Linked DNA regions of Homo sapiens: all the other regions are linked to region 2. The links come from fine-mapping of genetic effects on gene expression. A gene starts in region 2. Each other region holds a variant in brackets. All regions are shown on one strand. Distances are from middle to middle.

Region 1 (5,889 bases), 220 kb before region 2:
GAGAAAGCAAACATTGAATGGATTCATACCCTGAAGTGCAGCAGCAGTAGCAGTGCCCCTCACAAATCTTTAATACGGTGATAGTGAGCAGCAAACAATACAGCCAAACTGATTTGACTTGTGTCAAAAATACAGTGGGCAGCAGTGGGATCTGGACATCCCTCTAGTTGATGAACACAGGCTTAGAGGACATCAGCTTCTCCATAGCAAATGGGCAAATTTGTTCTGAAACCCAGTTGATAACTTTGTAAATTATCTGGGATTGACATGTTGTGTTCCAGTTAGGATGTGTGGAGTGAGACAGACCAGCTTTGTTGCTGTATTTATTAGGTTTTCTCTGGTGGAAAGACTCCACTGGAATCCAAGCTCCACCACTTACCAGCTTTGTGGCTTTGGCTGAAAACCACTCCTGGACTTTGTTTTCTCATTTGTAGATGGGGATGATAATTCCTCCCTCACCAGGAGGCTGTGCAGTTGGAATGTGATAACATATGTGAAAGTCTAGACTAGAGCCTGACAACTGGCAGGACTGACATGTTACTCCCCACCTCCTAGGATGACCCAACTCAAGAGACAGAAGCAACTGAACTGTGTCTGTACCTGAGCAGTTACGGCAGTGAGAGTCACGGCCAACTTCCTCTGTGGGGCCTGTACCCTGCAAACAGGGTTCTGTGGAAGTGGTGGAGGCTTCAGAGAGGGGATAGAGTCAGCCTCTGCCTTCAGGAAGCAACATCACTCACCAGCCCTTTCACCCACTAGACTGTTAATGGAGGTTTTAAATAGAAAATGATGTGATCTTCTTTCTTGAATGATTATACTGCTAAAGTTTCTAAATATAAACTTAAACTATGATACCTCCTACATACACACACACGGTCCTTATGTCAGAGTGGTGACTGTCCACCTGTCACGGCTTTTTCACATCTTTTTATTTTGAAAAATTTCAAAGATAGAAAAGTTGCAAGTAGTACAATGAACACCATATGTCACCAGATGTTCACGCAGATTTATCAATTAAATTTTACTGCATTTGCATTCTATTTTTTAAAAATCATTTGCTGAACCATTTAAGAGTTAACTATAGACACTGTGACACTTCATCCAAAAATACTTCGGTGTGTATCTCCTAAGAATAAAAATATTCATCCTATGTAACTATAAAATAAGTATCTCGGCCGGGCGCGGTGGCTCACGCCTGTAATCCCAGCACTTTGGGAGGCCGAGGCGGGTGGATCACCTGAGGTCAGGAGTTTGAGGCCAGCCTGACCAACATGGAGAAACCCCATCTCTACTAAAAATACAAAAAAAGCAGCCGGATGTGGTGGTGCATGCCTGTAATCCCAGCTACTCGGGAGGCAGAGGCAGGAGAATCACTTGAACCCAGGAGGCGGAGGTTGTGGTGAGCCGAGATCATGCCATTGCACTCCGGCCTGGGCAACAAGAGTGAAACTCCATCTCAAATAAATAAATAAATAAAAATAAAAAAAATAAGTATCTCACTCGGGAAATTTTACATTAATACAATAGTAGCATTGAAAATACAGTCCCTATTCAGAATTTCCCAGTTATTCCAATAATACCCTTTGTAGGTTTTTAAAATACAGGATCCAGAAGAAAGAAGGGAAAAAAAATCACACATTTCACTTAATTGTCATGTCTTACCCAGTCGATTTCTGAAATTCAGCCCTTTCCTTTTTGGAGCTAGAGCTGTTGTTTTCCCATTAATTTTATCCACCTCAATGGGTCTCATAACTAAATGCAAGCCCCAGTAATTTTACGTCTTCACTTTTGATCCATGTACTTAAAGAAAAAAAAGTGACTTGTATTGAATATAATCCCACCATTTCTCAGTTCTTAGCTTTAAACAATATTTGAATAGAATTGTCATGTTAACAGCATGTGCACAATGACAGATCTGGGCAGTAAAGGTGGGGGCATTCAGCTAAGGGCACATTCAACTCACAGTAGTGACCGAATATTCAGGTTACAAGCTGTGGTTGGAGATGAGACCTGAATCTCTCCCTAGGTAAGGTAAAGAAGGATCTACAAAGAGTGAGAGGAGAAGCCGCAAATGGGTAACTTTTCCCAGAGGAGAGAATATTTTGCGAGAAGAACCCGTCTGAATGTTGGGAGACTTCCAGGCCAGAAGAGAGGCAGCAGGGTATGCTGAAGACCCAGAGAAACCAGGGGAGTGGGGTGTCCTCAGAAGCGAGGAAGGAATGGGGTGCACAGATAATGAGAAATAGACAATGAATTTCATCCCTGAACTGCTTATGGTTTTTAATTCAAGATGTGAATGAGGTCAGGTGCTGTGGCTCACGCCTGTAATCCCAACACTTTGGGAGGCTGAGGCAGGTGGATCACGTGAGGTCAGGAGTTCAAGACCAGCCTGGCCGACATGAAACCCTGTGGCATATGCCTGTAATCTCAGCTACTTGGGAGGCTCCCTTGGAGAACTGCTTGAACCCAGGAGACGGAGGTTTCAATGAGCCAGTGAGCCAAGACTGTGCCATTGCACTCCAGCCTGGGCAACAAGAGCGAAACTCTGACTCAAAAAAAAAAAAAAAAAAAGAATGTGAATTAATTCCAAGTCCAGCCCAGGAGAGGGGCATTGGGGCGCAGAGCTATGCCAGCTGGAGTCAGATCAGATAACCTTCCAGAGAGGCAGGGTGGAGGCCAGGCCAGAAGCTCAAAGCCCCAGACCTCAGATCTCCTGAGGCAAGACTCCTCTAGGTAAGCAAACAGGAGTAGGCACTGGGAACTGTGGAGAGGGAGAAAACCCAAGCATAATCATCAGGAAGAGAAGTTGCCGAGGAGCACATGAAGGGACAAACTGGAGGACAAAAGCCAATTTGGTTGGGATGACCAGGGAGCAAATGGAAAGAATCTGTGTCCTTGACAACATTGAACCACTGAGTTAACCAACTGCAAAACTGCCCCACTGCTGTACTACTTCTTGTTATATAAAATAATAAATTTCTGGATTGTTCGGAAAAAAAAAGAGGCAAACTAAATCAATAAATTAAGAAACTCCTTAAAAAGCACAGTTTTAAAAAAAAGTCTTAAGAGCCAAGAAAATGAAGTAAAAATATCAAATAGGTGAACATAA[C/A]GTAGTTACAATAATTATAGCAGATCCACTCACCTTGTTAAGTAGATCTTAAACATATAATTAGATTTAAATGTTTAAAAAGAATAAGGTTGTCAGTGAATAATTTGATTTTTAAAAGATCAGAGAAAAAAACAGAAAGGCAGGCAAAAGGAAAATCTGGCTGGGCACGGTGGCTCACGCCTGTAATCCCAACACTTTGGGGGGCCAAGGCGGGTGGATCATCTGAGGTTAGGAGTTCGAGACCAGCCTGGCCAACATGGTGAAACCCTGTCTCTACTAAAAACACAAAAATTAGCCGGGCGTGGTGGCAGGTGTCTGTACTACCAGCTACTTGGGAGGCTGACGCAGGAGAATCACTTGAACCCGGAGGCGGAGGTTGCAGTGAGCTCAGATCCTGCCACTGCACTCCAGCCTGGGCAACAGAGCAAGACTCTGTCTCAAAAAAGAGAAAATTTATGTAACTCTCAGTTTCTTTTCTTTTTTTTTTTTTTTTGAGACAGAGTCTTGCTCTATCGCCCAGGCTGAAGTGCAGTGGCGCAATCTCAGATCACTGCAAGCCCCACCTCGCAGGTTCACGCCATTCTCCTGCCTCAGCCTCCCAAGTAGCTGGGACTACAAGCGCGCACCACCACGCCCAGCTAATTTTTTGTATTTTTAGAAACAGGATTTCACCGTATTAGCCAGGATGGTCTCGATCTCCTGACCTTGTGATCCGCCCGCCTCGGCCTCCCAAAATGCTGGCATTACAGGAGTGAGCCACCACGCCCGGCCAACTCTCAGTTTCTTAAGACACATGAATATATATGTGTGTGTGTGTGTGTGTGTGTGTGTGTCTATATATATATATATATATATATATATATATATATATATATATACACACACATACAAATATCCCCACAGCCATGTATTACTTAACCATGAAGAATACATTCTGAGAAAAGCATCGTTAGGCAATTTCATCATTGTGTGAGCATCATCAAATGTACTTACCACGAACCTAGATGATATGGCTACTACACACCTAGGCTATATGGTGCAGCTTATTGCTCCTAGGCTACATACCTGTACACCATGTTACTGTACTGAATACTGTAGGCAGTGGTAACACAATGGTACTTGTGTATCTAAACACATCTAAAAACAGAAAAAGTGCAGTAAAAATATGGTGTTATAATCTTTTTATTTATTTATTTATTTGTTTATTTTTGAGACGGAGTCTCATTCTGTTGCCCAGGCTAGAGTGCAGCGGTGTGCATTTGACTCACTGCAACCTCCACCTCCCAGGTTCAAGCAATTCTCCTGCCTCAGCCTCCCGAGTAGCTAGGATTATAGTCGTGTGACACCACACCAAGCTAATTTTTGTATTTTTAATAGAGACGGGGTTTCACCATGTTGGCCAGGCTGGTCTCGAATTTCTGACCTCAGGTGATCCGCCCACCTCAGCCTCCCAAAGTACTGGGGTTACAGGTGTGAGACACCACGCCCGGCCTATGGTGTTATAATCTTATGGGACCACTGTTGTATATGTGGTTTGTGGTTCACTGAAATGTTGTTATATGGTGCATGCCACTATACACACACACACACGCACACATATGTGCACACACACACATGCACACACATGCACACACACGTGCACACCCACGCGCATGCACACATGCACATATAAGTATATAGCTCTATATATGTATATATACATATATGGGCATATGTGTGTATATATGTGTGTGTATATGTATAGTATACACAATTTGCCCCGTGAAGGAGGCACTGATGAATACAGAGGCATTCCTGATTATTCAGGTGGTGTGAGCAAGGGAAAGTAAAGTACTAACTGCTGATGGTTGAAAAGAGGTTTGAGGTGCTCTTGCCAACTAACAAGAGAATTTTTGCCCGAATAACTAGAATGAGTAGAGCATTCACAATCCATGGTATTAATATGGTTTGAAAGCAGTGTGAGTATGTCATAGCAGAGGGGGACGTGGCATGCAGTCTCTATTGTCTTGCGTCTCTGTGGTAAACACTTTTCAGTAGATACTGAATAATCAGGGTGAGATTATTAACCCGTTCTTCATCTCTGAGAAATTAACCCCACAGCACTCCAGTTTACCAGTACAAACCTTACTGTAGAGTTGTCTACTGGACTGTGAATAAATTCATCGGGTTCTAATTTGCAAGTCGAACTCTAAAATTTTCAATCTTCTCGCCTTCAATTTATTTTGAAAACAGTCTGTGCCTGAGTTATGACAAAGGAAGGGAGAATTATATTTTCACCCTCAAATTGATGGAATAACTTTAAATGAAACACCCATATTCCACTTAGAGACTGTAGTATTGACTACTTTCCTATTCTTACGCCTCCTAATTCTTAAGTGGGGGTGGTGGGGCCTTTAACAGCTGCACATTTCCAACACAGTCCTCCCTAAATGGTGTCAAATGACTGGGAATGAAGTTTTGGTAACTCTGGATGATTTATGCAGCCACTTAGTCATCGTTGTTCCATCAGGGGAAACAATGAGAGGCTTTTGTTTGTGTTTCTGTGTGTAGGGTGTGAGGGACAAAGAGAAGCAAATATTCATATAATGAAACTTTGGTCCTCTTTTTTTCCTCTCAACAGAGGTCTTTATATTCAAATTACTATAAATATAACATAAAAATAGAATATATACTGCACTGTGGCTCTTTCTACATTGTTTTCATGTATTTGCCTAGAAAGCTGCTTTTTTTCCTTCTCTCTCTGTTTTTTTTTTTTTTTTTTTTTTTTTTTTGAGACGGAG
Region 2 (5,889 bases):
CCCTGTATTGGCTTCCTTTGGACTCTCATTGGCCAAATGCCAGAATCTCTGGGTTTATTCTGTACCCTGCTCTTCCCATTCTATGTGCTTTCCTTGGGTGACCTCATCTGCTCTTCTGGCTTCAATGACCAGGGACATATTGAAAATTCATATGCCTCTAGTTCCATTCAGGCTTCACTTCTGAGTTCCAAACCATGTGCTCAATTGTCCCCTGGACACCTCCATTTAAGTGTCCCTCAGGTACCTCAGACATAGCTTCATCCTAACAAAATCAATATCTTTTCAGCCAAACGTCTTCCTTCGGTTTCTTTGTATTGTCATCATCCAGGATCTCAGCCTCTTTTCCTCATTTCTAGTCAGTCACCAACTTTAGTGAGATGAGGTGGTAGAGCTGGTCTCCGAGAGACACGCAGTGGATTGGGAGCTACTAACAGTGAGGACAACCACCTGGCAGACATGGTGCTAGGGAGTGGACCCAGTAAAGGAAGGGTGGCTACGGGTGATGCTTCCAATCTTGGATGAATTTTATGTAGCATCACCAGATGCTGAGGGTAGTTGGAGTTCTCGAGGAAAAAGGAATGAGCTTGCCTGTGCCTGAACAGGAACAGGGACAGAAAGAAGTCCAAAACAGTTAAGTTTGAAAGTAGGAGGGCACGTGTACCTGCATCTCTGAGGGGTAAGGAGGTTTCAAGTATTTGTGGGTTCTACCTTTGTAATGTCTTCCCAACCTGTTTTTTCCCTCGGTAGCCTCCAGGCTACTACCCACACCCAAGTCTTGTTCCGAAAGCATTTTTTTTTTTTAAACGGAGTCTTGCTCTTGTTGCCCAGGCTGGAGTGCAATGGTGTGATCTCAGCTCACTACGACCTCCGCCTCCCGGGTTCAAGCGATTCTCCTGCCTCAGCCTCCCAAATAGTTGGGATTACAGGCACCCACCATCACGCCCGGCTAATTTTTTATATTTTTAGTAGAGACGGGGTTTCACCATGTTGGCCAGGCTGGTCTGGAACTCCTGACCTCATGTGATCCACCCGCCTTGGACTCCCAAAGTGCTGGGATTATAGGTGTGAGCCACCACACCCAGCCCTGAAAGAAAATCTTATTTAAGTTGTTGGCTCCAGTAACTTTTGGACATCAAGTTAAAAATTTCTTAGCTTCTCAAACAAGGTCCTTCAGAATATGGTCCCTGTTTGCTGTCTAGGCCCATCTCTTGCTACTGCATATACATTCTTTTTGCTCCAGCCACATGGAAGTTCTTCCAGTCTTCTAAAAACATCACAACTTCATCCTTAGAATGTCTGTCTCACCCTCTCTTCCCCAAGCTCATTCATTCTTCCATTTCTGCTTGTCCTTCAACACTCAGTTCAAGCACCATTTCTCAGAAGACTTTCACAAGCCCAATCTGATTTTGTCTGGGCTATCTTGGTATCCTAAAGGATACGATCCACAAAAATATCATTTACCACACCTCACTGTAATCCATTAACTTGCCTCTCTTCCCCAGCAGACTGGGTACTTTATGAAGGCAGGTCTCAGTCTATCTGGCTTGCTATCCCAATGTCTGGCACTTGATATTACTTACTGTTTTCTTTCTTTTCTTCTCTTCTCTTCTGTTTTCTCCTCTCTTTCTCTGTCTCCTTTCTTTCCTTTCTTTTGCTCTGCCACCTAAGATGGAGTGCAGTGGCACCATCCTGGCTCACTGCAACCTCGACCTCCCGTGCTCGAGCAATCCTCCCGCCTCAACCTCCTGAGTAGCTGGGACTACAGGTGCACGCCACCACCCCTGGCTAACTTTTTGTTATGTATTTACTTATTTTTTTTGGTAGAGACGGGGTTTCACCATGTTGCTCAGGCTGGTCTCGACCTTCTGGACTCAAGTGATCCGCCAGCCTCAGCCTCCCAAAGTGCTTGGATTACAGGCATGAGCTACGGCGCTTGGCCGGCACTTGGTACTTTTAATGAATAGTTATTAACCATGAAACTTTTAAAGTTTAAGCAGTAGTATGTTTAACCTGGAAGACTTTTAACATTTAAACAGCAGGCCATTTAATTGTGGCAGTTCACATGCTACACCAGTGCATGGAGCTCCTTGTGGCCAGTGCAATGTTGCTGGCCCATCTGGCAGTGGGAAAATCTGGGCATCCAGGAGTGCATCTCTAGGGAAGTATCACCAGCCCTCACACCAATCTCAAGCTGCCTGTCTTCTGCAGAACCCACTAGATCAGCGCGCTTCTGGCCTTGACCCACTTGGTGGTTACCTACAGCCACTAAGAGGTGGGCAGATAGATGTTTTTGGTAAGTGGTCTCTGGGTTAGGGAGTGCATGGGTTATGTCCGTCTAGGGGTGTGTGTGTGTGTGTGTGTGTGTGTGTGTGTGTGTGTGTGTGTGTGCATGGGTGGGGGAAGGGAGGAAGGAGGCCGAATGTGCATCCCTTCTACAAGGACGCCTTTCCAGACCTCCTTATTAGGTGGCGTTCGCCTCCTCACCCTCTCTCAGCCCCTTATCTCCTCTTACACGGATCACGACTTGATTAATGCTTGTCTCCCAGCTAGGCCGCCAGCTGCACAAGGTAAGGAACCGAAGGCATTCCGGTTCTCCCTGGCAATCCTCCTTCTCAGAAGGATGCCTGAGGCATAACAAGTGTTCCAGAAATATTTCTTCCGCAAGCGCTCTGGGCCAGTCTGGACGGACCGAGCGCCCGCTGGGCTGCGGGGGCCCCGGGACCCCGGCCGGCACTGACGCCCCGCCCACCACCGGCCGGCCCGGGCGGGGTGGGGCGCGGCTGGGCGCTCTCGCGGGGACCGTTCTCCGGCTAGCGTGGGCGATGCCCGGGCGGGGAAACGGGAGGGGACGACGCGACGCGAGGTAGCGGCCTGGCCAATGAGCGCGGGTCGGGCGGGGCTGGGGGCCGGCGGCCGGGGCGCGCGCGGGTCTGGGCGTGCCGCGGGTGACGGCGGGGCCGGGCGGGCCAATGGGCGCTGGGTGGCGGGCGGGCGGGCCTGGCGGCCGGGGGCTTTAGGACGTGAGCGGGCGGCCGGCCGGACAGACTGACGTGTGAGCTGCATCGCGGGAGGCGCATGGCGGGGATGGCGCTGGCGCGGGCCTGGAAGCAGATGTCCTGGTTCTACTACCAGTACCTGCTGGTCACGGCGCTCTACATGCTGGAGCCCTGGGAGCGGACGGTGTTCAGTATCCTGTCCCGGCCGCGCGCGCGGGGGCCGGGCTGGGGGCGCGGGCCGCGGGGCCGCATTTCCCCAGGCCCCGGGCCTGGGGTGGAGGCTGGAGCGGCGGCCCCGCCGGTCCTGTGCGCGGAAGCCGGGGGTGCAGGGGGAGGTCTGGGGGCCGAGGGCGGCGCTCGCGGGGTTAAGTGGGGGGTGGGGGAGACGAGAACTCTTGAGATCCGGGGTCACCTGTGAGTCGCTGGACCCAAGGGGGAAGCGTCTTGATTCCTGGAGGAAATCTCCGAAGGTGATGTGTAACCCTGTGTGTCGCCTGCACTTCGGCCGCAACTGCCTTTGGTTCAGTCCCCTGTTCCTGTAGGAGGCGGGGATCATGTAACAGTGGAGCACATCGCTCCCGGCTTGGACGCCTTTGACCTTTAAGTGTTCCTGATTTAGTTGGCTTTGGGTCTACCAAGAATTCTAGTCAGTTAACTAGCTTTTAAGCCAGGTTCTGAATTTGTAGGCATGACACTCCAGTAGTTTTTGAAAGCAGTTTAAGTTATTGTATCTTTTTGGTCTTCAAGTTGGGGAGTTTTAAAAGTGTATTTATTGCTTCTGTGCACCGTCCGTAGAAGTCGGCCCGAAAAGTGGTGCAATTTGTGGTTAGTTGTCGGTAGGGTTTGAAACTGTGTTTTGGTGGATAGTTAATAAATTCTTGTTAATGACTATTGAGTGGTTACTATAAGCAAAGCATTTGTGCAAAGCACGTTGTCTGTATCTTAACTCATCTAACTTTGAGAACTTCAGTTAATAACTCAGGGTTGTGAAGATAGGCTCCCTGAAAGTCTGATGTTTCTTGTCTCTGCTTGTCCATATTGACATCCTTTGATGATATTCTTGCAGATTAAATACTGATAATGAATGAGATGTAACTTTTAAAAAACTCAGGCCAATACAAAACAGGTATTTCACAAAACATGTTTAGTTTATCCACGTTCTCTCCTTTTCAGTGTGGTTTAGTTGGAGTAGCTTACTTCAGAATAACTTTGCGAATGCATTGTTGCATTCCAGTGAGTGACTGAGGTAATTTCATTCTAAGCCTTATCAAGTGTGTTTATTTGTTTTGAGATAGCTTAAGGTTGTACTCAAAGCTGAGTCTTTTGTTTAAGCACTTTTGAGGAATTTGAGATGCTTTCAAAGCAGTTTATTTATTTATTACTGTTGGCATTTCTTTCCAAACCTGGAATTTAAGAACCAGAATGCATATTTTGGATTTAGACTCTGAATATAGTTTGCTTTGATTTCCTGCACCATTTATTTGTAGCTGCAGTTTAGTCTCACTCTTTAGGGCTCGCAAGGTCATGCCTTGTAAAATATATACTTGAATGCATATTTAATAGAAGTCTCTCAGTAGAAGCAAGTATATCTTGACTGACATAACACATCCTAAAATTAATTTAAACAATGCTGGGTTAAAATGAAACTCTTTAAATCAGAGGTTGAATGTAGAGTGCACTATTAGAATCTAGTATAGATTTGACACCTAAAATCTAATATAGATTTTACACACTAAAATGCTACAGTTATCAATGATGTTAAGATTTTTCTGTTATGTTGCAATAGTGATAGTGTCCTATAAATAACTAGGTGATGCCTTTTTTGGGGGATGGAGAAATAAATTATGAAATGAAATATAGTGCCTTAGTAGATATTTGCCTTTAATGTTTTTGAGTTACCATGGTTTAGCGACAAGTAGTTTCAATTTTTTTTTCAAATAGGTGAGAACTGCAACCAACTGACATCCAATATTATAGAACCTTATGATTTTAAACTTAAGATAAAAAAATCTTATTTCAAATTTCACGTTATTGAATTAACTCAGGTTAGAAATGCAATTGTTTGACATAAGCCAGTCTTGAATTACTATCAGCTGTTGTATTTATATTTTTCCACTTCAACTTCTAGAATCATTTAAAACTATCTGATAGTTTGGAACATCAATTTGAGATTGAATCCTCATTTTAGCTTGGTGGAAAGAACTGAATGAGAAAACTGGATTTTTTTCCCTACTTGTCAGGAGGCTTACTCTGAAGTAGTTTGAATTTCATAAATCCATTAATGATTAGTAAGCTTCACCCAGAACTAATCTGTGGCCAGCTACAGGCTTTTGGAAAGAGGCATACTTTCTACAGCTTAAACATTACATTCAACTTAATCATCAATCCTAGAAACCTAAAATTTAGAGAAATTTGCCTCTGCCTGTCTGAAAATTTGTCTCTGAGTTAGAAGTCCTGAACAGAGGAAGACTTCAGATTGATTTCTTTTCTTTGTGTGTGTGTGTGTGAGACAGTGTTTTGTTCTTGTTGCCCGGCTGGAGTGTAATGTCGCCATCTTGGCTCACTGCAACCTCCGCCTCCCAGGTTCAAGCGATTCTCCTGCCTCAGCCTCCAGAATAGCCGGGATTACAGGTGCCTGCCACCACGCCTGGCTAATTTTTGTATTTTTAGTAGAGATGGGGTTTCGCCATGTTGGCCAGGCTGGTCTCGAACTCCTGACCTCAAGTGATCTGCCCACTGCAGCCTCCCAAAATGCTGGGATTACAGGCATGAGCTACCACGCCTGGCCAGATTAATTTTCTTCTTTTTCTTTTTCTTTTTTTTTTTTTGAGACGGTGTCTCGCTCTGTTGCCGAGGCTGGAGTGTGGTGGTGCAATCTTGGCTCACTGCAACT
Region 3 (5,889 bases), 95 kb after region 2:
ACAGAGATGATGTCCAACAGTGTTTGACACAATTAATTTAGCCATTTTTATTTCATCACTAGTGCTGACAAGGATAATGTAATTTAAAAATTAACTGAATAAATATATCTGCTCTTAATAAGTAGTAGCTGCATTGTCCTACTTGTAGAACTCAGATGCCTAGTTTTAGGGAGCACTGTCCTCAGTGCAAGCACTGTGGTGACCTGGAATCTCCTGCCCTGACACGTACAGTTTGCTTATCAAGCAATTACCCTGGCACCTACCATTTCTGAGCCTTAGGAAAGCCCTATTTAGAATGCCACTTAAGGAATGTGCTCCCTCCCTTGAGTTCTTATGCAAGATCTTTTTTGAATGCTTAAAGAGAGAATAATAATAATAATAATGATAAGAAGAAAAAGAAGAAGAGGAAGAAAGAAAAAGGAAGAAGGAGGAGAAGGAGAGGAGGAGGAGGAGAGCAAATCAGTAAATCACTTAAGTAAAATTTGCCCTGCAAAGAAGTCAGGGCATCTTGGTCCTATCTTGTTCTCCCCCTCACCAAATTGGTGCCACTTCCTGAACACACTGGGTGCTTTCACATACTGGTGCATTTGCTGGCATGGTTCTGCCTGGCCTGGATGCCCTTCCCTTCATTTCTCAACACTTCCCCCGTCAAAAGCCAAGGAACTCCGTTGTGTAGCTTTCTCCAACACCCACAGATGGAATTAATACTTCCCTCTTCTGTAGACCCACACCACTCTGGAAACACCCCTATCATGCAGTTTATTATAGTCTGCCTAATTAGAAGCATGGTATTTGTCCACTGTGGTTGACCATGAGCTCCTGGCAGACTGGCAGTATTTTATCCGCTTTGTAGTCTTAACAGGTGGGGCAGAGCCTCTGATGATTCTGGGGGAAAAGAGTGAAATCACCTTTTGCCATTTGTCATGTTGTAAAGCTTCCTTTCCTTTGCTAAATACTTACCAGGAGAGCCCTACCATCATGGCTTAAGCATTTTTGTCCCACAGCAAGGGACTAGCCAGGGCAGGGAGGTAGATAGTTTTGTATTTCATATATGGCTTGTATTGTGCCATGAGAATATTTGCAGGCTTGTTACTTTGAAGTGCCTCTGTCAGAGACTAGAGGAAGCCTGATTCTCAAGCCCAAATGAGATAGGAAAGTTGTCATGGATACCATAACTGCCAGTCTTCTTGGATGTCATAGGCGAGGCAGGTCAGCTCAAGAGAGAAGTGCTTCCTGGTGGTGTTTGCCATGCCTGATTGTGGATAAATCCAATATAACCCAGCATTTTCTACACTTGTTTGAATGCACGAAATCTAGTGGGCAAAGATTGAGAAAGGCAGCCTTTAATTGCTGGGTGTGGTGTAAGGTTGATTGAGTGTGGTGGAGTTGTGAGTAGACTTGCCTGCAGAGAAGTAAAACAGATGGAAATTCCATGGCCTTGTAAGTGAGTTTTTATCTCTATTTAAAATCTTTCTCATTTCTTCAACTTACGGTTATGAAATATTTCAAACACACAGAAAAGTTGAAAGATTATTATGGTGTAATCCCATATGCCCTCCACATAAATTTCACAATTGTTAATATTTTGCAATACTTGCTTTATTTTTCTCTGTACTTTGGTTTTCTTTTTTGTGTGCCATTTGAAAGCAAATTATGTACACATGATGACACAACACTTTTCGATATTCAGCATTTCATCCCTTAAGAATACAGATATTTATCCACAGAAACAAAATGTCATTATCCCTGCTAAGAAAATTAACTATCTAAAATCAACTAAATATTTACATTTCTGGCCGGGCATGGTGACTCACGCCTGTAATCTCAGCACTTTAGGAAGATTGCTTGAGCCTAGGTGTTCAAGGCCAGTCTGGGCAATATAGTAAAATGACGTCTCTTAAAAAAAAAAAAAAAAAAGGCAAGAGTGGTGGTGCATGTCTATAGGCCTAGCTACTCAGGAGGCTGAGGTGGGAGGATCACTTGAGTCCAGGAGGTTGAAGCTGCAGTGAGCTATGATGACACCACTCACGGCACCCCAGCTTAGATGACAGAACGAGACCCTGTCTCAGAAAAACAAACAAACAAACAAACTGCATTAATTCCTCCAAAATGTCTTTGTAGCTGTTTCTCTCAAATTAATGCATACATTACATTTTAAAACTTCATTTTAACATAGAATGTTTTATCCCTCTTTTTTTCCCTCCATGACATTGACTTTTTGAAGAATCCAGGCTCGCAGCCTTATAGAATGTCCCACATTCTAGATTGTGTTTTCTCTTGATGTTAACCTGTTCCTCTTTCCCAGTAAGTTTTAACCCGGGCTGTACATTAGAATTCCTTGTTTTGATTAATTGGCCTTACAAAGAAGAAGTAATAAATTGGTCCACTCTGTTCTCACTGGGGGTTTTAAATACAAAACTAAAAACCTAGAAATTTCATACAAATGTCTGAGTGCTGCTCTAATCCAGTTAAATCAGAAGCCCTTGGGATGCAGCCCAGGTGGCCCTACTTTCAAAAATCTCCGGGTGGCTCTAATATGAGGTCAGAAGTAAGAACCACTGCTCTATCTCCTGTATATTCTTTAAACTAGAAGTTAGATTCGAGTATACGTTTTTGTTCAGAATATCTTAACTGTACATTACAATCATGTGGGAAGCTTTAAAAAATACTGATGCTTGGCAACTCCGGCCCCCGCCCCTGCCCAAGTAGATTCTGCCGTAGTTGGCATTAGGAGTTTGAAAAGCTCCTCGGGTGATTCTAATGCAATTAAGAAGCGCTACTGCCTTAGATTAGGTTGTTGAATTTGCATCATATCAGGAAGCATGTAATGCCACAGTGTTCCATTTTTTGTGATGTGAAATTCAATCACTGGATTAAGGTGGTCACCACCATACCTCTCCATTTCAAAGGTACAGTTGCTCTTCTTTGTTTATTTTATATATTTTTTGAGATGGAGTCTTGCTCTATCACCCAGGCTGGAGTGCAGTGGCGCGATCTCAGCTCACTGCAACCTCTGCCTCCCGGGTTCAAGAAATTCTTCTGCCTCAGTCTCCCAAGTAGCTGGGACTACAGGCGTGTGCCACCATGCCCAGCTAATTTTTGAATTTTTAGTAGAGACGGGGTTTCACCATGTTGGCCAGGCTGGTCTCGAACTCCTAACCTTGTGATCCGCCCACCTTGGCCTCCCAAAGTGCTGGGATTACAGGCATGAGCCACTGTGCCTGGCCCAGTTTCTCTTCTTTGTAAAAGTAAGTGGTCCCTGGGATGGTACTTTGGTACTCTAGGGATAGCCCGTATGCTAACAAGTTTTCATCCAAAGGTTTTGGCTTCCACTGGTGATTGTTACATGAATCAATGATTATATCAGGGGTTACAAAATGGTGATCTTCGAATTTTGTCATTTCTTTTACATTTATGAGTGTCTTACTTTTGTAAAGAAGAGCTGTCCTGTTTATCCTCCCCACTCCCTGCCCTGGGATTCACGTATCTTCATTAATAAAGAGCTACCATCATTATCCTTTTTGACGTTAAATTGTATCCAATTCGGCCCGTGGGAAACCCTTCAAGTCGGCTATTTATTTATTGAGATGGAGTCTCACTTTGTTGCCCAGGCTGGAGTGCTGTGGTGCGATCTTGGCTCACTGCAACCTCTGCCTCCTGGGTCCAAGCAATTCTTCTGCCTCAGCCTCCTGAGTAGCTGGGATTACAGGTG[T/C]CTGCCACTGTGCCTGGCTAATTTTTGTATTTTTAGTAGAGACAGTGTTTCACCATGTTGGCCAGGCTGGTCTCGACCTCCTGACCTCAGGTGATCTGCCCACCTTGGCCTCCCAAAGTGCCGGGATTACATGCATCAGCCACTGTGCCCAGCCTACAAGTTGGCTTTTTAAAAAGTAAATGATTTTTACATTGAAATATAACATATAGATAAATGCACAAAAAATCAAGTCTATAGTTCAAAGAATGTTCACAAAGCAAACACATGAATAGCTAGCTCCTAGATCAAGAAACAAAACATTACCAGGAGCCTGAAGCCCCAATCACACCCTCTTCCTATCACTTTTGTCCCCACACCAGTAACCACCAGCTTTACTTCTAAACCTATTGATCAGTTTGGCTGTTTTGGAATTTTGTGTCAATGGAATCATACCACATGTACGCTTTTCTGTCTGGTTCCTTTGCACGTCTGTATGCTCATGAGATTCACTCTTGTGTGTGCAGCTGCAGTTCTTTGTTTTTCATTGCTCCTGCCATTTATTTATTCATTCTAGTGTAGGTGGACATTAAGGATGATTCCAGGTTTTGACTATTATGTGCCCCTATGAACATTCTGGTACTTGGGGTCAACACATTTTTTTGGGTAAGGAGAATAGGGGTAGAAGTGGAATTCCTTGCTCATAGGGTATGTTTACTTTGGTAGAGGTCGCCACACAGTTTTCCTCCTGTTTTCTTTTGATATAACCCCCTTGGTCCTTACGTACTTCTTTTACTTTCTGGCAGAAGATGTCCTTGGCTCATCTTTTGTGTTCTCTGCCCGAGCCCTGGAACCAGCCATTTCTCTGAGGATTTCTCATCCTTTTGAATAGGGAACTGTATTTAAAAGCCGAGGTGTGGGTACTATTTGTGCTTAGCACTACTGGGATCTCATTGCTCTTAGTTCCTTCTAGTGGACAAAGCTCAGAAATACACAATCATGTGTTTGAACTGAGAGTTCCAATTTCAACTTTACAGAGTTGTTTTTTCCCTTCTTAACTCTGTTTTATGTTATATATCATCTAATTTCTCTTACGTTGAAAATCTTTGTTCCTAATAACATCAATATATTTTATTTGCTTTCTTCTACATTTTCATAAAACAGTTTTGAAGTCACAATACTAATACTACTGACAATATTATGTGAGTAAAGTAATATATGAATATGCGTAAGCTTCAGATTTCTTTGCAGTTCTTTTTGTCTCTTGTGAGCAACTTCGATACTAAGTTAAATGGCTTAAACTAATGTGGAGAATGAGGAATTTATCTAGCGGTTCAAGAAGTGAGGGTGTTCTGCTCAGAATGTAGACTGTGTGCCTTCTAGATGATTGCAGCTGTTGAGCTCCCACTGTGGGCTTTTTTTCCCTCTTTTATTTTTTTTTGAGATAAAGTCTTGCTCTGCCCCCCAACGCGGGAGTGCAATGGCACAATCTCAGCTCACTGCAACCTCTGCCTCCCGGGTTCCAGTGATTCTCCTGCCTCAGCCTCCTGAGTAGCTGGGATTACAGGCACCTGCCATCACGCCCAGCTAATTTTCTTTTTTTTTTTTGTATTTTTAGTAGAAATGGGGTTTCACCATGTTGGCCACGCTGGTCTCGAACTCCTGACCTCAAGTGATCCACCCACCTTGGCCTCCCAAAGTGCTGGGATTACAGGCGTGAGCCACCGTGCCCGGCCTTTTTTCCCTTTCTTTAACTCCCTTTCTGAAGGTTTTCAGGGTTTCCAGTGAGATGAGGTGCACAGCTGGGGGCAGTATGTCCTTCTCTCACTTAGAGGTTCTCTGGTCGACATCCTCCCTTCACTCTGATCGTGATGGTTAATTTTATGTATCAAGTTGACTGAATTATTGTGTTCAGCTATTTGCAAATCTAGATGTTGCTGTGCAGGTATTTTAAGAATAGGTGACTAACATTTAAATCAGCGGACTTTGGGGAAAGCAGATTGCTCTCCACAATATGGGTGGGTCTCACTGAGTCAGCGGAAGTCATTAAAAGACTCAGGTCCCTTGAAGAGGAAGGAATTCTGCCTCCAGATCGTCAGACTTAATACATCAACTTATTGCTGGACTCGCCAGCCTAACTCGTGGATTTCAGACTTATCAGCTCTCATGATTGTGTGAGCCAATTTCTTAAATTAATCTCT
Region 4 (5,889 bases), 130 kb after region 2:
TTTCCTAGTCACAGGAAGTTTTCTTGCAAAAGTGGGATCATCTATTGAATTCAAACCTGTGTCCCTCATAGGTTAGAGCCTGTGTTCTGGGCCTTGTATGGTTCGCCAATGTAATAATTACCTGGAAAGTTTGGATCCCTTCAACTCACACACCTCCACTACTCAGGTGTCAACAGTAAATGGGTCTCAGGATTCTCAAGGTGTGATGCTTTGGGGTGTGGGTGGTACCCACAAATCTGTTCTTGTAAAAACCTGAGTGGCCCTTAAAGTAAAAGTTTGAGGGGATAGAAAGGAAACCTCACCTTTGGGCCACACACCCTCCTTGCTCTTCTCTGGGTGTTCTTTTTTTTTTTTTTGAGACGGAGTCTCGCTCTGTCGCCCAGGCTGGAGTGCAGTGGCGCAATCTCGGCTCATTGCAAGCTCCGCCTCCCGGGTTCACGCCATTCTCCTGCCTCAGCCTCCCGAGTAGCTAGGACTACAGGCACCTGCCACCGTGCCCGGCTAATTTTTTGTATTTTTAGTAGAGACGGGGTTTCACCGTGTTAGCCAGGATGGTCTCGATCTCTTGACCTTGTGATCCGCCCTCCTTGGCCTCCCAAAGTGCTGGGATTACAGGCGTGAGCCACCGTGCCCAGCCTCTGGGTGTTCTTGTCTGAGAGGCAGTAGTGTCACTGGTAGTGGGGTTGTGACTGCAAGGTGTCCAAGTTCTTGGCATTTTGAACAAAGAATTGGACAAAACGCCCACCAAAGCAAAGAAGCAACAAAAGAATGAAAGCAGGGATTTATTGAAAACGAAAGTACACTCCGTAGGGTGGGAGCGAACCCGAGCTGCGGCTCAAGAGCCCGGATACAGAATCTTCTTGGGTCCAAATACCCACTAGAAGTTTCCCATTGGCCACTTCATGCTCATCTCATGTAAATGAATTGGTAGCCTACAATCAGTCTCGTTGCAGAAAGCAGCCAACCAGAGGCTGAAGTTACAAAGGTCACTCCTGTGCAAACCTATCAGAGGCATTTTGCAACCAATCGGAGGCTAGGGTGAAGTTACAAAGTTATACTTCTATGTGCAAACGAAGACTTGGCCTGCAATCGGTCTGACTGGTTGTGGACCGCAACTATTCAGAGGCTGGAGTGAAGTTACCAAGTTGCAAAAGAAGACTCCACCTGCAATCAGTCTGATTTGTTGTTGACACCCAATTTCCCATTTGTCGTTCAGAAAAGGTCAAAGAGAGTAGCCTCTGGTCGTTTTGTTGCTTAGGTGTGGAAAGTTAGGGTTTTCCTTTCAATTTAGTTCTAGGAAGTCTGCGTGAAGGTTTCCTGCCTCCAGATCCTATTCTCCTGCCTCAGTAGGAGCCTTTTTAAACAAGCCTCTTGTTAAAAAAACAAAACAACCTCTAGACAATTTAAATTTAGCAGTTTATTTGAGCAAGGAATGATTCATGAATCGGGCAGCACTCAGAATTACAAAAGATTCAGAGAACTCTGCAAAGAAGCAGTGATATAGAAAACAAGTTAAAGTACAGAAATAGCCTGGTTGGTTGCAGCTCAGCTCTTGCCTTATTTGGCCTCGGGTCTGATCAGTTGGCAGCCTGTGATTGGCTGAAGCTGGGCTGCAGAGGGGCTGAGACTCAGCTGTTTGTTATTCTCCCAAGTTAGGTTTTCAGTTTATGTGCTAAGTTAGGTTGCGGTTCATTACCTAGGAACTGAGAGTACAGAGACAGCCTCAGGTCAGGGGCCTTTCTTATTTAACACTCTCATGATACATTTTTCTGCGTGAATATGCATTTAATACATGGACATGAAGCAAAGCTGCAAAGGGTGCAGCTTTTCTGGACCTGAAAAACAAGTTGGGTTAAAGCAGGTGAGGCTTCCCCCTCCCCATCGGTGTGTATATAGTTTCTTATCCCTGCCTCACCCTTCCTTCTGCCATTTGCCTTGGCAGTGTGATTTGTATCTGTAGTGCTGGTTGGGGCAGGTGAGGTTTAGTAGGGGCAGTTTATGAAGGCTTGTGTTTGCACACTCTGAGATTTTGGGCCCAGCCTGGGTGCCCCTGAGGACAGGTCTGAGCTGGTTCCAGGGTATGGCTTCCAATGCTGGAGCGTCCTGCTGCTCTCTGCTGCCCCCTGGGAGAATATTCTCACACTGCCGTTCCAGGTCAAAGGCAGGAAGACAAGGTATTAATAATTTCCAGGTGGAACAAACTGGGGGCTCGGCGTGAGAAGAATTTCACTGGTTAGATTCACGTATCGAGAAAAACACACAACATACCTAGAGACTATGGAAAAATCCATGCACTCCAGCCTCTTCATCTGCAGCTTTAATTCTCACGAAAGCATCCCCACATGTGATTGTTTCTGTTCCTTGTGTCCTGGCTTTAAGATCTCATTTCAAACTTGTCATTCTCCTTAATAATAAAAATCTTGTCAATCCCTTGCTGAAATCAGGTCTGTCCTATTTCTCAGATCTGTTAGTTTGGAAGTCCCATTTATAGAGGTGATAAGATTAGGCATGGCTTGTCCTTAGTGAACCTTAGTGCTTCCTTTTCTAAAAGTGGGCATAGTGTACTGGTTACGAATATGAGCTCTGGAGTCAGGGGAGTCTCAGGCCCATCACTGAGAACGAGACTAATGCCTGCCTTCTGTGGTGAGGATGAAATGAGATGATATATAGAAAGCACTCTGTGTAGTGTCTATCTCATAAGCCAATGAATGTTGACTGTTTTGTTATTTCCTAAGTTCTTATAATTCATTCATTAGTTTGTTCCAGACTCTTGAATGGTCTCCAAGTCCTCTTAATTTGTTGACTGCATTCTTCATGATTTCTCCACTGTGATACTCTATGAGAAACAGCAGACACGCAGACACAAGCCTTGACCCAGTGGGGTCACAGTGGGTGGTGGGGAAAATCAGTCTCAGACCCAGTCATGACAGGGGTTAAAGTGAAGGTGCTTTTGGCAGATCACACATGTTCTGCATAAAAGCCAAATCTGCTCTGTTTCCAGTATGTCTAAACACTTCACCTTTAACAGTAAAAAATAAAAACATAAAAACTTTGCACCCTGAGATAAATCAGAAGTATCAGAGTCACCCTGACAGGCCTGGTCCCCAAATAATAAAACGTGAATGTTTATTGTAAACTTGGGCACCTTCCAAAACAAGCTCCC[G/A]GACCCCATATTTGCTATGTGGATGTTTAGAGCTATGGCGAGAGCTTTGTGAATACAGCAGTCAAGTGAGTAAGTTGCTGCTTTCTCACCAGAAACACGTGAATGGATATTTTGTAACTTTGGTAATACTGCACATTTTCCCTTTAAGTCCTTGTTATATTTTTTATTTAACCGACCAGTCCTTCAGAAGTCTGATTCTCTTGCTCTCTTTGAAGGTGAACTTTTCTTTCCTTTTGTAAATGCCTCTTTCTCTGAGTATTTTGACACTGGTTGTGCCTTGCCTGAATCATGATGAGGTACAAAGTCTCAAAAGATGTTCCATTTGGTCCACTTTGTTATTAGGTTAAGATTAAAAAAAATTTGAGATACTTTGAGAGTATAAATACTCTTAAGAAGTATAAGTACTTTTAGAGTATAAATACTTGAGAATTACCCATGAGAAGTGGTGAAAATAGTATAGTGAGTTCCCATATACCCTTAGTTTAAGATAGCATCTTAACCCCAGCACATTAGCAAACCAGGAAATTGACATTGGTATTAACTAAAGTTCAGATTTTATTCAGATTTCACCAGTTTTTATATGCACTTTTTTTTTGAGACTGAGTCTCGCTCTGTCGCCCGGGCTGGAGTGTGGTGGTGTGTTCTTGGCTCACTGCAACTTCTGCCTCCCGGGTTCAAGTGGTTCTCCTGCCTCAGCCTCTGAAGTAGCTGGGACTACAGGTGCATGCCAACAAGTTTGGCTAATTTTTTTTTTAATAGAGATGGGGGTTTCACCATGTTGGCCAGGCTGGTCTTGAACTCCTGACCTTAGGTGATCCACCTGCCTCATCCTCCCAAAGTGCTGGGATTACAGACATGAGCCACCACACTTAGCCTATATGCACTTTTTGTGTTTGTGTATGTGTGTGTGCATAGCTCTGTGAAATTTTATCACGTGTAGATTTATGTAAACACAGCCACATCCAGGGTGCAGACAATTCCATCACCCAAAGAAATTCTGTGGTGTTACCACGTTATACTTACACTTTCTCCCTAACCTGACCTGTGACAACTATTGCTCTGTTCTTCATCACTATAATTTTGTCATTTCAAGAATGTTATATAAATGGTCCATAGAGTATGTAAACATTTAAGATGAGCTTTTTTCACTTAGCATAATGCACTTGAGATCCATCCAAGTCATACGTATCAGTATGTTTCTTTCTGTTGCTGAGTAATATTCTACTGTATAATGTACTGCAGTGTATTTCACTATTCACTTGTTGAAGGATGTTTGGGTTCTTTCCAGTTCTTGGCTATTACAAATAAAGCTGCCATGAACATTTATTTATAGTTTCTTAGTGTGCATGTAAGTTTTATTTTTCTAGGTTTCTGGATGACCATCTTATGTTATAAATTGTGTTTGCAGTTGTATTTATAACACAGCTGGTGTTAAGTTGTGCTTCTTGGATTATCCTGTGTGCATGAGAAAAGAACAGAAGTAACTTAGGATGTAAGTGATGCATTTAGACCAAGCGAAGTCAAAAGCTATCATGACATTTGATGCTAATGGTGATTTGACAGTACTTCAAATAGAGTCAATTGGTAAGAGAATTGAGCCATCACAAAACACGTGGTAGTATAAATATGCCAAACTCAAAAACATTTGTGTGGAAACATCAGTTCCGTAGCTGTGTTGTGAAGAGAAGAGTGATTTCGTTCCAGCAGAAAAACATCATCTACCTCGTTATATTAAAACAATTGTTCATTTGGATTTTTATTGGTTTTATAGTTTTCTTTTTTATTTCATTTATAAATTTGTTTTAATTTTATGGCTGTGGACTGGCACATAATCAGCTTAACTACTCAATAAAACCACTATAATATATGTGATTTAATAATGGTTGTGGTATTGAAGAAAGGCAAGGTACAAAACAAATACACTATATTGAAAAAGCTGTAAAGGTGGGAATTTATATCATGTTTTGTTTGTACATATTAATATAGTTGGCATTTTGGATCAAACAGACGTAAAAATAAAGGTGCTTAAACAAATATAGAAGGTCTACTTATCTTATAAAAGTCTGAGCTGGTAGGTGGTGTAGTAGGGTGGGTCGTCTAGATACCCAAGCTCCTTCTAGCTTGTTGTTCTACCTTCTCCTGGATCAGTGCTTCTCAAATTTTAGTGTGAATATGAATTACTTGGAGATCTTATTTAAATGCAGAGTTTGGCATCAGTAGGTCTAGGGTGAGGCCTGAGAACCCCTATTTCCACAAAGTCCCAGCTGCTGCTCCTTCTGCTGGTTCGCAGGCCACATTTTGAATAGTAAGGTCCTGAGTACTGCCTTCATTCACATGGTTGAAGCAGTTTCATCCCCACTTCACTGGATTTCCAGCTATGGGAAGGGGTCCAGGGGAAGTCGAGGACTGGCAGCGTCTTAATGAGAACATGACCAGAAGTTGTTTATGTTCTCTTCACTTCTCACTGCCAAAACTTGTCATATGATTGTACTCAGTTGCAAGGGAGGCTGCAACATGTAAGCTCTGGGTAAAACTTGATGAATTCTATTAACGAAAAGGAAGGTAGGGAGAATTAATGCTAAGGAACTGTTAGTGGTCTCTGCCACAATATTTCATGAGAATTTAAGGCAACACGGGGTTTATGAGAATTTTTTCCTTTTGAAGAGGTGCATGCATTACTTAAGTTTGAGAAACACTAATCTGAAGTATACTGTGAAGTTCCATTT

Which allele goes with the higher level. Positions count from the first base shown, and alleles are read on the strand shown. Sizes are in standard deviations (SD) of each study's normalised expression. Not every link is listed here.
As copies of C replace A in region 1, the expression in lung of the gene that starts at base 3,043 in region 2 goes down (moderate effect, 0.68 SD a copy in GTEx).

What was found. PIP is the estimated chance that this variant, and not a neighbour inherited with it, causes the effect. A credible set is the group of variants that fine-mapping cannot tell apart.
Region 1: its variant is the best candidate, but not a certain one, in a credible set for the expression of SPTSSA in lung (GTEx, PIP 0.73).
Region 3: its variant is the best candidate, but not a certain one, in a credible set for the expression of SPTSSA in whole blood (TOPMed, PIP 0.63).
Region 4: its variant is the best candidate, but not a certain one, in a credible set for the expression of SPTSSA in whole blood (INTERVAL, PIP 0.56).

What each region holds. Positions count from the first base shown.
Region 1 is chr14:34,677,770-34,683,658 of GRCh38, reverse strand. No RefSeq gene overlaps it. Among named protein-coding and RNA genes, the nearest start is that of CFL2, 34 kb to the left of the region's middle. The variant C/A (reference allele first, on the strand shown) is at 3,110.
Region 2 is chr14:34,459,394-34,465,282 of GRCh38, reverse strand. SPTSSA (serine palmitoyltransferase small subunit A) reads left to right here and starts at 3,043. Exons shown (of 2, transcript NM_138288.4): 1 at 3,043-3,187. The coding sequence starts at 3,076. RefSeq lists silencers at 2,521-3,030, 3,151-3,320 and enhancers at 2,230-3,180, 3,721-3,830.
Region 3 is chr14:34,364,256-34,370,144 of GRCh38, reverse strand. No RefSeq gene overlaps it. Among named protein-coding and RNA genes, the nearest start is that of SPTSSA, 95 kb to the left of the region's middle. The variant T/C (reference allele first, on the strand shown) is at 3,713.
Region 4 is chr14:34,328,056-34,333,944 of GRCh38, reverse strand. No RefSeq gene overlaps it. Among named protein-coding and RNA genes, the nearest start is that of SPTSSA, 130 kb to the left of the region's middle. The variant G/A (reference allele first, on the strand shown) is at 3,164.